Linked DNA regions of Homo sapiens. The protein of the gene in region 1 binds, or shares a complex with, the protein of each later gene. Each region holds a gene or a part of one and is shown on either strand. Other genes may lie near its edges.

Evidence for each region.
Region 2: TAF1A (region 1) and TAF1C share a complex: the UniProt entries of both Homo sapiens proteins name them as parts of the transcription factor SL1/TIF-IB complex.

Annotation. Positions count from the first base shown.
Region 1 is NC_000001.11:222,586,919-222,594,889, forward strand, and holds the start of TAF1A (TATA box-binding protein-associated factor RNA polymerase I subunit A), read right to left. Parts: upstream 3,016-7,971; 5' UTR 2,809-3,015; intron 1,648-2,808; 5' UTR 1,646-1,647; coding exon 1,525-1,645; intron 1-1,524. UniProt on the Homo sapiens protein: Component of the transcription factor SL1/TIF-IB complex, which is involved in the assembly of the PIC (pre-initiation complex) during RNA polymerase I-dependent transcription.
Region 2 is NC_000016.10:84,177,355-84,184,080, forward strand, and holds the end of TAF1C (TATA box-binding protein-associated factor RNA polymerase I subunit C), read right to left. Parts: intron 6,425-6,726; coding exon 6,343-6,424; intron 6,154-6,342; coding exon 6,056-6,153; intron 5,980-6,055; coding exon 5,890-5,979; intron 5,796-5,889; coding exon 5,722-5,795; intron 5,087-5,721; coding exon 4,848-5,086; intron 4,705-4,847; coding exon 4,588-4,704; coding exon of another isoform or gene 4,510-4,587; coding exon 4,392-4,509; intron 4,310-4,391; coding exon 4,238-4,309; exon of another isoform or gene 4,110-4,237; coding exon 3,974-4,109; intron 3,833-3,973; coding exon 3,689-3,832; intron 3,642-3,688; exon of another isoform or gene 3,514-3,641; intron 2,991-3,513; coding exon 2,816-2,990; intron 2,730-2,815; coding exon 2,592-2,729; intron 2,498-2,591; coding exon 1,587-2,497; 3' UTR 501-1,586; downstream 1-500. Other genes in the region: DNAAF1 (dynein axonemal assembly factor 1), read left to right, coding at 160-252, 375-487. UniProt on the Homo sapiens protein: Component of the transcription factor SL1/TIF-IB complex, which is involved in the assembly of the PIC (pre-initiation complex) during RNA polymerase I-dependent transcription.

The sequences.
Region 1 (7,971 bases):
GGTTTAACAGGCTATCCATGACATATAAAATATTCCTAAGCATGTAAATTTTGGTCTTTGGTCTTAAACCTATCTGCTTGCAGACTGACTCAGACTTTCTATAGAACACTGGTAACAGAAACATACCCAAGTATGACTTAACTATAGGAAATTTAAATTACTAGTTTGTTCCCTACCAGGGATGCGGTAGCACTACCTCTGAAGTATCATTCATTCAAATCTGCCTTAAGCCATGTGCATTAATCTAGCAAAAATAAAATGAGGAGAGGAAAGGCACTATTATTTTTCAACACTCATTATGCATGAGATACTATGCTAGGTACTTTACATATATTGTCTCATTTTTAAAAATGCATCTCAGTCGTTAAAAGTGTAAGCTTTGAGATCAGACAAACCTGGATTTGACTCCTGATACCACTTAAGAGTTTAATGTCTTTGAGATTCAGTTTCATCCTACCTAAACTGCCTAGCATAAAAATTTATTGAGAATTTACTGAGATCATTAAATGGGATGATACTTAGATCAAAAGAAAAAAATGGAAGCGAAATTTTAGGAGCCAAGGAATCTCTGTCAAGGGGAGAAAAGGCTGGGCAAAAAAACACATATTTAAGGGCAGTAAGTAAAATGCTGGTTCAAATGTAATCCCAGGACTATACCACTCAATATGCCAGCATACAGATAATAGCTTCTTTTATTTATACTTATATTAAATATATTCTTATAGGGAATTTATCCCATAGAAAAACATACTTGCATTTATATTAGATAAAAATGGGGGAAATTTTATCCCATAGAAAATCATGCTTGCATTTACATTAGATAAAAATGGGGGAAAATGCTCTTTTATCTAGGCCGGGTGCAGTGGCTCATGCCTGTAATCCCACCACTTTGGGAGGCTGAGGTGGGCAGGTCACTTGAGGTCAAGAGTTCAAGAACAGCCTGCCCAACATGGTGAAACCCTGTCTCTATTAAAAATACAAAAACTAGCCAGGCGTGGTGGCTGGTACCTGTAATCTCAGTTACTCGGGAGGCTGAGTAGAATCACTTGAACCTGGGAGACAGAGGTTGCAGTGAGCCAAGATCTAGCCACTGCACTCCAGCGTGGGCAACAGAGCAAGACTCTGTCTCAAAAAAAAAAAAAATCTATTACACGATCAATTCTATTCGAAATAATTTCAATGCAATTCAACAGCAACTTCTTGAACACTTCCTAGGCATGTTTTCCTCAATGGCAGAGACCATATCTTCACCTATGACTCCCCAATATTTAATCAATGCCAGAGATAAAAGTGCTCAGTAAGTATTACTGGAAAAAATGTGTATCTAGCATAATACAGACTATCTATTATTAATCCAAGGGCAAAGAATTCTAAAAGAAAAAAGATTTCTTTTGGCTTTTAGCCAAAAAACCCTCCACATATTCCTCTTGAAAATTAAACCAGTCTGGTTATTCATTTTGTATCCCTATTGAATCTTACCACCTCCTTAAAGTTAAAATGGCTCAATGTTATTATTTTACTTACCCACAGTTTCTACGTATGTTTGAAGCCAAGGAAAATGCATTCCTGCACCACTGAGCACAGATGTTTCCACTTCTTCATCATCTGTCACAGGCCCTTTTAATTCTTCACTGAAATCACTCATACCTATTACAAGATGAGATATCAGTTACTTTCTGTACATCTTAATCCACAGTCTTCTGAGTTGTACAGAAAAACGGCTATCTTTTTATCTAATAAATATAATTTGATTAGCAAAATGCATTATACCTGTCAGCTCTTTTAAAGTAAAAAATGAATTTAACTATGTCAGCAACAGCCAAAATGAATGATCCATTAAAGACCGAACCACTAATGTTTCAAGTCCATGTAAAGATAAATAAGATACTGCCCCTCTAATTTAAAAAATCTCAAGTCTAGACGAAGAAACAGCAAAACGTATAATAACAAAACAATATGAAAAGTACAGTAAGAATAGAAGTAGCAGCTAATATTTATTAGGCCCTTACTATGCACTAGAAGTATAAATTATCTAATTTAATCCCCACAGCAATCCTGAGGTGGGTACTATTACTTTCTTCCATGTGAAGGTTGAAAAAACTGAGGGGCTTAGTGAAATGATGGAACCTGCCTAACATCACAAAAAATGGTGAGGACGATAGTCTAGGAAATAGAACACCAAACTACTTGGCATGACTAGAATTCGAGGTGCGTGTGGAGGAGGGGTGCGGAAGGTGAGAAACGAACCTAGAAAAATCATCATAAGCCAAGGTGAGTTTAGACTTACTCCTAAAGATGCTCAGGGCCCCTTCCTCATTACCCATATGAAATCGAGTATTAGTGCCCCTGATACTACCTCCAAATTTCCCCTATTTCCCCTCTTCAATCCTACAGCACTACTCTAGTTCAAGACCCCTTCAAACAGTGCCTAGATTACCGCATCAGCTTTCTAAACAATTACCCTGGCTCAGATTTTGCATCTCTGCATTATACCCAGAGTAAACCTTCTAAATTCAAAGCATGTGGCTAGGAGTATGAATTATAAGTAACAACTGAATTTGAATCCGACCCATCACGTGTTTTCAGGAGTAGTTACACAAATCCTCCCTTTCCAAATCCTCAAAAACCCAAATTGGTGACCCGCAGTTGCCACGGCAACCAAAGCTTCTCTATCCCCTTCTTTCGTTTTCAGACCCCAAGGGTTTCAGGTATTAGGAGGAAATATCAGGAGAACATGGATGAATCCTGACACACCCCTTCCCGTTCCATTTAAACGCAGGAACCACGGGCGATATCTGCGGCACTTACCCGCCTAAATTTAGAGCTCCTCAGTAAAGCTAAACTCAGTCTCCGACTCCGGCCCACGTGAAGAAATTCCCACCGGAAGACGAGTTAGGAGAGCTTTATATGAGCAGGCGCTAAACCTGGTTTAGGTATTTAGGCAGCGCGCGGCCCGGCTCGTAACTCCTCCTGCTGCAGCAGGCGTATCGTTGGCCTCGCCTCGACCCCGGAAGTGACTTCTGGAAGTGACCCAGGAAGTGACAGTGAGCTGCCTCTCTGCGATTGGTTTTGCCCGAGTTTTATTTTTGTCTGTCTCAGCTAGAAAGTGGGAGACTTTCATTTAAAATGGAAATTGGGGCGAGGGGTTGGCGGCTGGGCGAAGGGAGCATTCAAAAGCGGAGAATGTCACTTTACCCGAGAAATTCACTACGATGGGCCATTGGTTTCTGCTCGGCTCGCAGGCGCACTGCACGAGTGGAGGTGTGGCTAGTGGCTGTGATGAGATAAATCCATGCATAGCCTTTTCATTGCGAGCTTGAAAGTTCTTTTCTATTACAGTTTTAGCTTTAGGTTTAATTGGTTCGACTGCCTTCTCCACAATTTGGGCGAGAATTTCCTTTGCCTTCTCAGCAAAAGTTGTTCTGCGGACCCGTCTGGGTCAACTTTCATGAGGGACATTGAGACAAACAAATGAAATATGGGTTAAAGGTAAGATGGTTAAACCGTGTGAAATGAGAGACAGTTGAGGGGTTCTAGGGAAGATGATCCCGGAAAAGGACTGCAGGCCCATGGAAACGCAGTGTGCTTCTCCAATATTTGGAGGGCTGATCAGTGAAAGAAGGATCAGACCCTTTTTCTTAGCAGCAGAGAACAGAACTAGGACTAATAAGTGAAAGGTAAAGGGAGGCTGCTTTCAAGTCACAGCAAGAAAGAATTTTGTCCACAAATGAGGATGCACAAATATAGCATAGGCTCCCCCAGGAATCACTGAGTTTCCTCTGTGTAGGTGAACAGTTTGAGTAGAATCGGAGTATCGGAGAGGAAATTAAAGGGTCTGGTAAGAGTTTGAGGCCGGGCGCGGTGGCTCATGCCTGTAATCCCAGCCCTTTGGGAGGCCGAGGCAGGCGGAAAGTTTGAGCTCAGGAGTTCGAAACCAGCCTAGTCAACATGATGAAACCCCGTCCCTACAAAATAAAAATAAAAAAAAATAAGCTGGGGTGATGATGCATGCCTCTAGTCCCAGCTACTCGGGAGGATGAGGTGGGAGGATCACCTGAGCCCAGGGAGGTCGAGGCTGCAGTGAGCTGTGATCACCCTACTGCACTCCAGCCTGGGCGACAGAATGAGACCCTGTCAAAAAAAATTTTGTACATGGATTCCTTAAAATGCTACAAATAGTTGATTCTATGTTGTCTTCTGCATAAAACAATATGCAGTAGTTAAGGACTTGCAAGAAAAGTTCCTTCTGCTGCTCTCTCTGTCATTAGTTCTTGAGTCCTCACTCAAGCTTGTGCTCTAACTCTACAGGCAGGGCTAACATAAATTATGCGTAGTCCAGGAGACCACACACAAAATAACATACATAATCATTACTTTCTTGTCTAGAGGCTTAGTCTGGCTACTTTTCTCCCATTGGCTTGAGGTGTAAATTCACCAAAACCAGCCCAGAAATGATTTTACATGGAAAAAAGTTTATGTTCTCCCGAAAATGAGGAAGAGCTTTCAGATTTTCCTCGAAGTTCTCAAACAGCTCTAAGGAGCAGTAGGAAACGTGCCCTACCTATGCTTTTTCTTTCCCATGCTGCAATTCTGACAGAAAATGTGTTGGAGAGAAGAGATAAAAAAAATCAACTAGATCACATCCAATAGCATAAACAAGAAGGAAGGAGGGAAGGTTGCCGTGGCAGGCATCTGTAGTCCCAGCTACTCCAGAGGCTGAGGCAGGAAGATCGCTGAGCTCAAAAGTTCAATTCCATCCTGGGCAACATAGCAAGACCATGTCTCAAAAAAAAAAAAAAAAAAGGCATGACAAATATGAAAACATAAAGCATGCAAAGACTTTTCTAGATTTCAATCTATAAGAAAACATGTCCTAAGAAAAACATGTTCTTACAATTACTTTGTGCTACAGAGCAACTTAATATGGTGATGAATTATGTTGTTTTTAAAGTTGCAAACTGTCATTTAAGGAATATTATTTCCATGAACGCTTCCTGTGCAATCTATTAAAGAACAAACTTCACATAGCCAAACAGTTGAAGAGACCTCATCATAAATAGACTATCCTATATCACAGCTAACGAGAATAAAAAAGGAATGTGGCATGAAAGCATAAAAATAAAAACATCTCAGATAATAATATAGAGAAAACCAAAATACATGGGCTAGAATTCCACCCCAGGGACTGTATCCTCAAAGACACAGGTTTTTCTTCCTTTTTCTTTTTTTTTTCTTTTCATGTTTCAGTACTCTGAGCAGCTACAAAAAGAAGACCAGTCTATCCTGCTGGAGACAGTGGCCACGTGAAGAAAGAGCTCTTGCAGTATGAAAGACCACATGGAAAGAGAGGCCACATGGAACCAACAGTCAGCATCTTGGTTTCGGACACGTGAAGAAATTCATCTCAGACTGTGTATCCTAAATCAGGCACTTGCTGAATCTAACTACATGAGTGAGACCAGTTGACAACACATGGAGCAGACATGAGCTGTTCTCAGTGAGTCCTACACAAATTCCTGACTCACAACACTGTGAGCAATAAAATGGTTGTTATTTTAAGCCACTGAAGTTTGCAGTGATTTCTTACATAGGAATAGATAAATGAAACACAAACATTGATCATTTGCATCTTCTATCTTTTTTATGACTAGTCTTATTGGAAATTACCAGTTTATTTCTGCCATGGTTAGAAAACAAACTCTGAAATTTTGATACTTTAAAATTTTTTTGAGACTTACTGTGCCCAGAATATAGTCTATCTTGGTGAATGTTCTGTGAGCACTAGACAAGAATATGTATTCTGTAGTTATTGAGCATTGTGTCCATCAATGTCAACGTGATTAAGGTGGTTAATAGTTGTCTTCAGATCTTCTATATTGTATTGATTGTTTTATGTGTAGTGTTGCTATTAATTATTGATACAGGAGTGTAAAACTTAAACTATGGCTGTGAATTTGCCACTTACTTTAGTTTTGTCAGCTTTTCTTTTGCATTTTTGAAGCTCTGTTATTGGGCATATAAACATTTATGGTTCGTGTGTCTTCCTGATGAATTGACCATTTTATCATTATGAAATGTCTTTATTGCTGATAATACTCCTTATCTTGAAGTCTAATTCATCCGATATTAGTATAGCCACTGCAGCCTTCCTAGCTTACTGTTTACTGGTATATTTTTATCCATGTTTTTACTTTCAACCTGTGTTTTTTAATTTAATGTGCTTCTCTTATAGACAACAGATAGTTGAGTTTGTCTATCATTTTGCTATTTGTTTTCGATTTGTCCCATTCAGTTTTGTGTTCCTTTGTTCTTTACTTCCTGCTTTCTTTTGGGTTAATTAATGTTTTTATATTTCATCTTAATTCCTCTGTTGGCTTTAACTGTATCTTTTTGCATTATTGCTTTACAGTGTTTCTGAGAATTATGATATACATTCTTAACTTATCACAGCCTTAGAGTTAAAATTATGATACTTCATGTAAAATAAAAGAGCCTTGCAATAGTAAAGTTCTACTTACCACCTCCCCAAGTCCTTTGTGCTTTGTTGTCATATATATCATATCTATGCACATTGTTATTTTTGCCTTAGTCATATGTATCGCAAAGAAATTAAGAGAAGAAAAGTATATATTACCTTTTGTGTATTTACCTACATTTTGCTATTTCCAGTTCTTTTCATTCCTTCCTGTTTGTGGTGAATTATCTTTAAGAATAGCTGTCAAAAAGTATTCACATTCTTGTATGTGCATGTTGCTTCTCCCTTTAAGAAATAGAATCAGCTGGGCATGGTGGCTCACGTCTGTAATCCCAGCAATTTGGGAGGTCAAGGCAGGTGGATCACAAGGTCAGGAGTTCAAGACCAACCTGAACAACATGGTGAAACCCTGTCTCTACTGAAAATACAAAAAAAAAAAAAAAAAAAAAATTTAGCTGGGCGTGGTGGCACATACCTGTAATCCCAGCTACTCAGGAGGCTGAGGCAGGAGAATCACTTGAACTTGAGAAGCGGAGGTTGCAGGGAGCCAAGATTGCACCATTGCACTCCAGCCTGGGTGACAGAGCGAGACTCTGTCTCAAAAAAAAAAAAAAGAAATAAGAAATAAAGTCTGTGTTCCCACCCCTTGAATCTGGGCTGGTCTTTTAACTTTGATGAACAAAACATGGTGAAAATGATGTCATACCAATTCTAGGCCTAGCCCCTAAGAAGCCATACACCTTTACTTTTATCCTCTAGAAAGCTGGCCAACAAATAAGTAAGTTTAGGGTAGATTACTAAAGAATGAAAAACATTTCAGCCAACCATCCCAACCATTTCAGCCACACAGCTGAACTACCAGACATGTGAATGAAGCTAGTTTGGAAGTTCCAGCCCTGGCTAAGCATCCAGCTGAATGCAGCCACCTGAGTGACCCCAGCCAATAATATCCAGAGCAGGAGAATCATCCAGGTAAGCAAAGCTATAGAATAGGTAGAAATAATAAATAATTATTATTTTAAATTACTAAATATATTACATCAAAAGAATAACTAAAACATTACAGATTTCAGTTTCCATCTGGTATGTCATCGTCTTTCATCCTGAAGAATTTTTTTTAGCATTGCTTACAGTGGAGGTCTATTGGTGTAGAATTTTCTGTTTTTATTTATCTGAAAATGTCTATTCTGCCTTCAGTTTTGAAGGATTCTTTAGATATAGGATTCTGGATTGGCAGTTTTTGTCCATCAGCACTTTAAGCCCTCTGATGATGTTAACTTCTTCTTTTTGATGAGAAGTCAGCTATCACTTTATTATTTTTGTCCATGTGTAATGTATTATGTTTCTCGGACTGCCTGCAAAACTTTTCTTTCCCAATACTTGGTTATTTGCAGTTTGACCATAATGTGTCTAGGTGTGATTTTCTCTGTAATTAGACTATTTGGCATTCACTGAGTTTCCTAGATTTGTCCATTTCTTTTATGATAATTTGAGAT
Region 2 (6,726 bases), on another chromosome or scaffold:
AACCTCTGCCTCCTAGGTTCAAGCAATTCTCCTGCCTCCGCCTCTGAAGTAGCTGGGATTACAGGCACCCGTCAAGGGATTTTCCTGCCTCAGCCTCCCCAGTAGCTGGTATTATAGGGGCCTGCCACCACGCCCAGCTAATCTTTGTATTTTTAGTAGAGATGGGGTTTCACCATGTTGACCAGGCTGGTCTCGAACTCCTGACCTCAGGTGATCTGTTTGCCTCGGCCTCCCAAAGTGCTGGGATTACAGGTATGAGCCACCACGCCCAGTTGAGGACACTGAATTTGGCCTGGACTGAACCCCAAGGCTGCCCCCCTGTCCTTGCAGTCACAGTGACAGGGAGAAAGCACAGGTCACCCTTCCTTCCACAGTGCCGACTGAGAGCGCCGCCACACCCCCAGAGACGTGTGTCGGAGTTGCCCAGCCCAGCCAAGCTCTGCCCACGTGGGACCTCACTGCATTCCCAGCACCGAAAGCATCATAGTTTTCCCCAGTTATATGTAGCATAAATGGTTTAATCATAAATGTCTCCCTTAGGCATGATAAACATTTTAACACCCACGCGAGTCAGTGTATGATTGGGCTAGCTCCTGTTTGTGTGAGTCACATGCAATTCCTTTCACCAGCCAACCTGAAAAAAGACCTTTCTCTTACTATGTCATCAGAAACCAGACAGACCCGGGTCCCTGCAAAATCTCAAGTGAGCATTTTCCCCACAGGAAAACAGAATCTTCCACTGCAGCTAGAGAAACTCCGAGGAAGAGGGACTTGATGCTTTAGACATCAAAATGAGAAGGGGAGGGAGGAAAGAAAGGGGGGAGTCTGTGAGGCACAACAGAGAATTCCCCCAAACTGACATGACCGTGACCCTCTGCTCAGAGGGCACTATCGACAGCCCACAGGTGCCAGACCCATGTCCCAAGGGAGAAGGAACATCAGCCATCATCTCTCTGCATGAGCTCAGTGTCAGGTAGTAGCTGTGGCGGGACGCTGTCCAGCCTAAAAAACGTGACCATTCCAATTCATCTTCAGCTGCCAAGTGTATTTAGTCCCTGAACCTGGATCCAAGGCATCTCCCTGTAGGAAACATCAGACCGGGGCAGAGATTGACAAAGCAACCCACAACAGCAGCTGCCAACGGCCGCTGTGCCCACCTCATCAGCAGCTCTGCAGGGGCCTCACTCCACCCTCACCAAACACGAGGAGCCAGCACTCCTGGCCCCCATTCCACTGGACAGGAAGGCGTGAGAACTGAGGGACCTGCCTGAGGCCCCCACAGCTGAGGCGCAGCGGAGCCCTGCCTCCCAGCACAGACTAAAATCCCAGCAACACAGGCCCACCGGCACCTCCAGCCTGCCTTGCGGGATGATCTTCAGGCGAATATACAAAATACAAAAGAAACTACTACTGTATTTTGTTGCCCTGTCCCTTCAACTTGGCTCCAAATTGCTTGGCTCATCATCACAGTGGCCTCCAGAAGGTGGCGAGCTCTGCTTCTCAAGTTTCAACTGTGGAAGGCACATCTGGTCCCAGAGGAAGGATGAGGGGCTCTCTGGGGCTTGAGGGCAGCCCACCTTGTGTCCTCAGAAGCCCATTCGAGGCTTCTTCCGGAGGGGCTGAGAGCTAGAGAGGACGGGTGTGTGCTGCTGGGAGCGAGTGGCCCGGACGCTGGAGGCCTGGGAGTGGGGAGGTGTGGTGGCACAGCCTGGGGTGTCCCTCTGGGGTGGTAGCTTGGCCATGTAGTCACGGAGCATCTGCCGCTGCTCTGATGGGACGCCCTGGGCGCATGCATCCGGAGTCAACTCCTGGGAGGGCGGGGTCGTGGGGGGCAGGGGCAGAGCATCAGCAGGTGGCCACTCAGGGCTATGAGGGGAGCTGGTGTCCTCTGAGGGATCCACATGGCCACTGAGCGAAAAGCTGCTGGACAGCTGGGTCCGGCGCTTGGGCCGCCTGGTCTGTCTCCCGGGCTCCGAGGTCCTGCCCTGCTGCCTCTCCCACCAGGCAGCCCCTCGGCCTGCCCAGGCTTCCCCCAGGCGCTCACTGAGCTTGTCCTCTAGGCCTGACTCGGGTGCAGGGGGTGGCTCTGCCGCAGGGAGGGAGCCCAGGTCTCTCTGCAGCAGGAGCTGCCCTCGGGCCATGGCCTTGCGGAGCACACCCAGCCGCTGCCCTTCCTCTTCCTCCCTCCGCAGCTCTGTGCTGCCCAGCATCTGGCGGTGGGTGAAGGTGGGTGCTGTCCACACAGGAGGAGCCAGGGGCACTTTTAGCAGGGCCTTCAGCCACTGGCTGCAGCCGGCAGTGTCCTGGGAGGTCCAGGAAGCTGTGGGGGCATGGCAGTCAGGTTGGGTGTCGCCAGGAGGCCCAGCATCTCTGCGGAGGCTGGAGTCCACCTGGGGGCGGAGCTGCTGGTAGAAGACATCTCCCGCCGCCGAGAGCTGGAAGAGCACCAGGCCTGGTGTGGGCGCTGAGGGCAAGGGCGGGACGACGGCAGCCAGACCTGGTGACGGGAATGACAATGACCTCCAGGGCCTAGCGGGGGGAGGGGATGTTTTCCACTGCGCCCCCCAAGCTCACTCCCCCACCCAGCACACCTATGGTCGGTGCTTTCAGGCGCTCCTGCAGCCGCCACTGGATCTTAGGCTCCAGCAGAGGAAATGCAGGGAGGGAGTCGATCCTGGAAGGAAGAGACTGGGGGGGGCCTGCCAGGCGGGGCACCGACGCCCCTTCTCCTGAGGAAGGACAGACAGCTGAGGCCCTGTCCAGGCCCCGACCGCCCCATCTCCCACACGCCGCCCACCCTGGCCTGGACCCTCACCTGCCAGGTGCAGCAGCTGCAGCTGCCCACCCTGGCCTCCGAGGAGCAGGGGCTGCACGCAGCTGGGCCGGGGCGGAGGCAGCAGTCGGGCCAGCAGGAGCGGGGAGGGGAGGCCATGGTTCCACTTCAGCATCGGCACCAGGGGAAGGCGCTCGTCCACTAGGTAGAGAGAGAACTGGGGCCCGAGAAGGAAGGGGGATGTGGCCGAACTTGGGAGCTGAGCTGTGTAGTGGCCCTCCAGGCCCCATGTGGCTCTCCAGGTGAGTGCAGAGCCCTGAGGGGCAGCAGCATCTCCCATCAGCCTCCACGTGCCTCTCAGACTTCACCTGCCAGCCCTGAACAGGTGCCGCTTCCTTCACCAATTCTGACCGACAGTCCGGTGGACAGACAGAACAAGTGGGAAAGGGGTGCTCAGAAGAGGTGTGGGGGAGCCTTGCCAGCAGAAACCTGCCTGGCCTTCTCGCAGCCACCCCCACTCTCCTGACCCGGGAGCCTGTGCTCGAGGCACGCCTACGAATGTCCCCGGGAGGGCGGGTGGAGGACAGACCTGCTTCCTCAGAGCCCCCGCCTCCTGCACAGCAGAAACTCTCCAGCTCTGCACGGAAGCCCCACCCCGAGGCCCCTCCTCCCCTGCTCCACCCCTGGCTGCACCTCGAAGCTCTACTAAGGGGAGGCCCTGGGAGAGCTTCCCCACCTGCCTGTTAGCACCGACTGTGGGATCCACTGCGTGTTTGGGCCACAGATTCATCCAGGGTTGAGTTTGGTTTGCTGGGTGGTTGTCTGGGCCCAGCAGAGCCGCTGGTAAGCAGCAGCCTCTAGTGACCATCTGAGACAGAGCAGAGGTGGGGCGGGGCGGTGTTGTGTGCCACTCACCTGGGTACAGACGAGATGAAGAGTAGGGGGGAGGCATTTGGGGCTGGAGTGCCCCAGGTACTGGGTAAGCAGGACACGTTCCCCTTTCTGGCACGAAGCCTCTGCCCCCAAACGAAAAAGCAACAGACCACAGCCCGGCGGGCCCTGGAAGATAAACACAGGGTCAGCCCTCCCCACAGTCCCAGGCCGGTGACGCTGTCCTCGCCCAGGCCGCAGCCAGCCTGGGACTCACCGCTCTGCGGCCGCTCCCGCAGTCGGGGTGGGTCCTCTGCCGCCAGCCCGTACCTGAGTGTCCAGCATCTTCACTCCGGTGCGGTCACCCACGGTCAGCACCCGAGGGTGCGCAGTGAAGTCTGCCCAACGCCACGAAGAGGAGTCCCGGAACACGAGGGTCTCAGGGTCCCTGTAGATTTGCCGCAGCCTTGGGGAGACAGGCAAGCCGTGGGCAGGGGGACAGGCTGATGGGGAAGGGGCTCAAGGGTCGCGACATGCTCAACAGGGCGGAGTTCAGTTCGTTAGGGTGGGGGGTTTCACAGGAAGCGGCGATACCCATCCTCAGGGCTCCACAGGCAGACGGCTCCCGAGCGGCTGCAGATGGCCAGCTCCCCGGGCAGGTGAGGGCTACAGGGCAGGAATGCATTCACATCGGGCTGCTCAGCCCTGCCTCCAGCCCCTCCTCACCGACCAACCTGACCCCCCTCACCTGAGGCTGATCCCCGTGGCCCCTTTCTCCACCTGCATTGCCTGCAGAAGGGTTGGCTGCCACTGTTTACCAAACTTCCACACGGCACAGTGGTAGTCAGAGCGGACGGCCAGCAGAGCTGAGGAGGGATGGAAAGGGCCAGGGGTCAGGTAGCAGGTCAGCCAGTGAGGGAGGAAAGTGTATATAAGGGCCTTACTTTCTCCCTGGACGGTGCATGTCACCACTTGCCGGACAGGTCCCTGGAGCTGGATGCGTCCAGGTTTCCCAAGGAATTGGGGATTGTCACCTGGGGTCAGAACGACCTCTTGGAAATCTGGGCCTCTCACTAAGGATCAGTGCACGAGCTATGATCACTGCAAGCCCCCCAAATTCCTGCCCTTCTCTGGACCATGCCAAGAGCACCTCCTCTACCAGAGGCGAGCCCGCTGGAATCTCCTGTCTCGCAAGAAAGGATACGCAGCCTGTCCTGGGCGCCTCCAGCAGGGTAGACCAGCTGCCCGAACTGGGGTGTCCTTCCAGGAACCCAGGCCAGCGCGCCCCCAGTGCAGGCCTCATCCAGAAGCAGCTGCTCCCACCGCAGCACCAGCTCCTCGTGCAGCAGCTCTGCCAAGTGGCTCGCCACCGACGTGCCCAGGATGGGGCCCCCGAGGATAGAGAAGCGGCGCTGTCGGTTGCTGAGGTAAGCCCAGGGACACCTGGGGACCAGAGAACAGCAGGAGGATCACTCGGTGGCACTCAGGGGAGGACAGGTCCCATCCCAAGGAGGCCAAGTGCAGTGGACACATTTCTTATTTACCTAGAATTTCTTCCTTTGGGAGACCACCCCATCCTGTTCCCATGCCCCGGAAGCAATCATGTGACCCAGACCTGGCCACCAACAATATTCCATTGCCCTTGCCACAGTGACTGGTTCACAGATGGGTGTGAGACCCAAGCCAAGCCAACCAAAGTCCTTTCTGGGACTTCTGGTGCCGCAGGAAGGACACTGGCTCTTTCCTTAGATCATAAGCCATCTTGCTGCTACCTAGAGACAGCCTGTCTAGGGAACTGTGCAGGGAGAGGCAAGTGGACGAGACAGGAAAGAGAGACACAGCTCTATGAACATTATTTGAACACCTGGATGCAGCTGTGCCTGAACTCCACAAATGTAAATCTGCTTTCCCCTGAGATGATTTGGAGTTGGAAGTCTGGTATAAGAAAGTACAGCTCAGACTGCATGGAGCAGGGGGGAAGTGGGTATGACGGAAAGCTGTACGTGCGTCCTAGCACCTCCTACATCCCCACCACCAGCTATGCCTATCCATCTCCTCCTTTCTCATCAGCCACTTGCCCCCAGGGCTGGTGTCCACCGAGGTCCTGGAGCAGCTTCTTCACACTGACCACTGTCTTCTTCTTAGTGCGGCTCTGCATGGAAAGGCCTTGTCAGGCTCACACACCCTCGAGTTCACCCCTGAAGGACAGCAGGGAGTCCCCACCCCTGGAGTCACGGGCCACTCACCCCCGCTCCCTCCAGCTTGAAATTCTCCAGCATCAGCTTCCCCAGGGGCGCAAAGGCTACGTCTCCATGATCCAAGAGGAACCGGCTGATCTGGGGAGAAGAGGAGGCCAGGTCACTAAGCACAGTCTCCAGGCTACGCAGCACTGTCCCCCGTGGGCCCACTCACCTGCTCAGTCACATCCAGCACGACTCGGGGCCGCTTCCGATACCGGCACCCTCCGCGGAAAAGCAGGTCCCGGGCAGTCAGGCCAGGGTCCCAGGGATCTGAGAAGGAGGTTACGGAAAGGGCTGGGGAGGGCACAGGAGTGCGGCCAGATGCCCTGGGCGACTGGAGGTATCCAAGGGTCCTGAGCAGGCACAGGCTTAGCAGGGAGAGGAAGGTCTCAGGAGCGGGAGCAGTGGGAAGAATAGGTGGAGCAGTGTGGAGTGAGCCCGGGGGAATGAGACCCTTACCGATGAGGGGAGGCAGCATGGGGAGAGGCCCAGGGGTTGCCGGCTCCCACAGCAGGTCCTTGGTCACATGCAGTGCCCCATTCTGAAGGGAGGACAATCGCAAGGACAGTATCATGATGAATGCCCTCCCTGGGCCAGGCTGTGCACAGGCATTCATCTCTTATCAACTCATCCAATCCTCACAACAATCCTGCGAAGCTGGGATGACTGGCATTGTCATTTTACTGCTGAAGAAACTGAGGCACACTGCCATTTGCCCCAGAAGACAGAGCCGGTAAAGAGAAGAGCTGGGATGTGAACCCAGGCAGCCTGACCCCAGAGCTCCTGTTTCCGACCTCCACCTGTGCTGGCTCTCAAAGAAGGAAGCCCCTCATGCCACCAGTG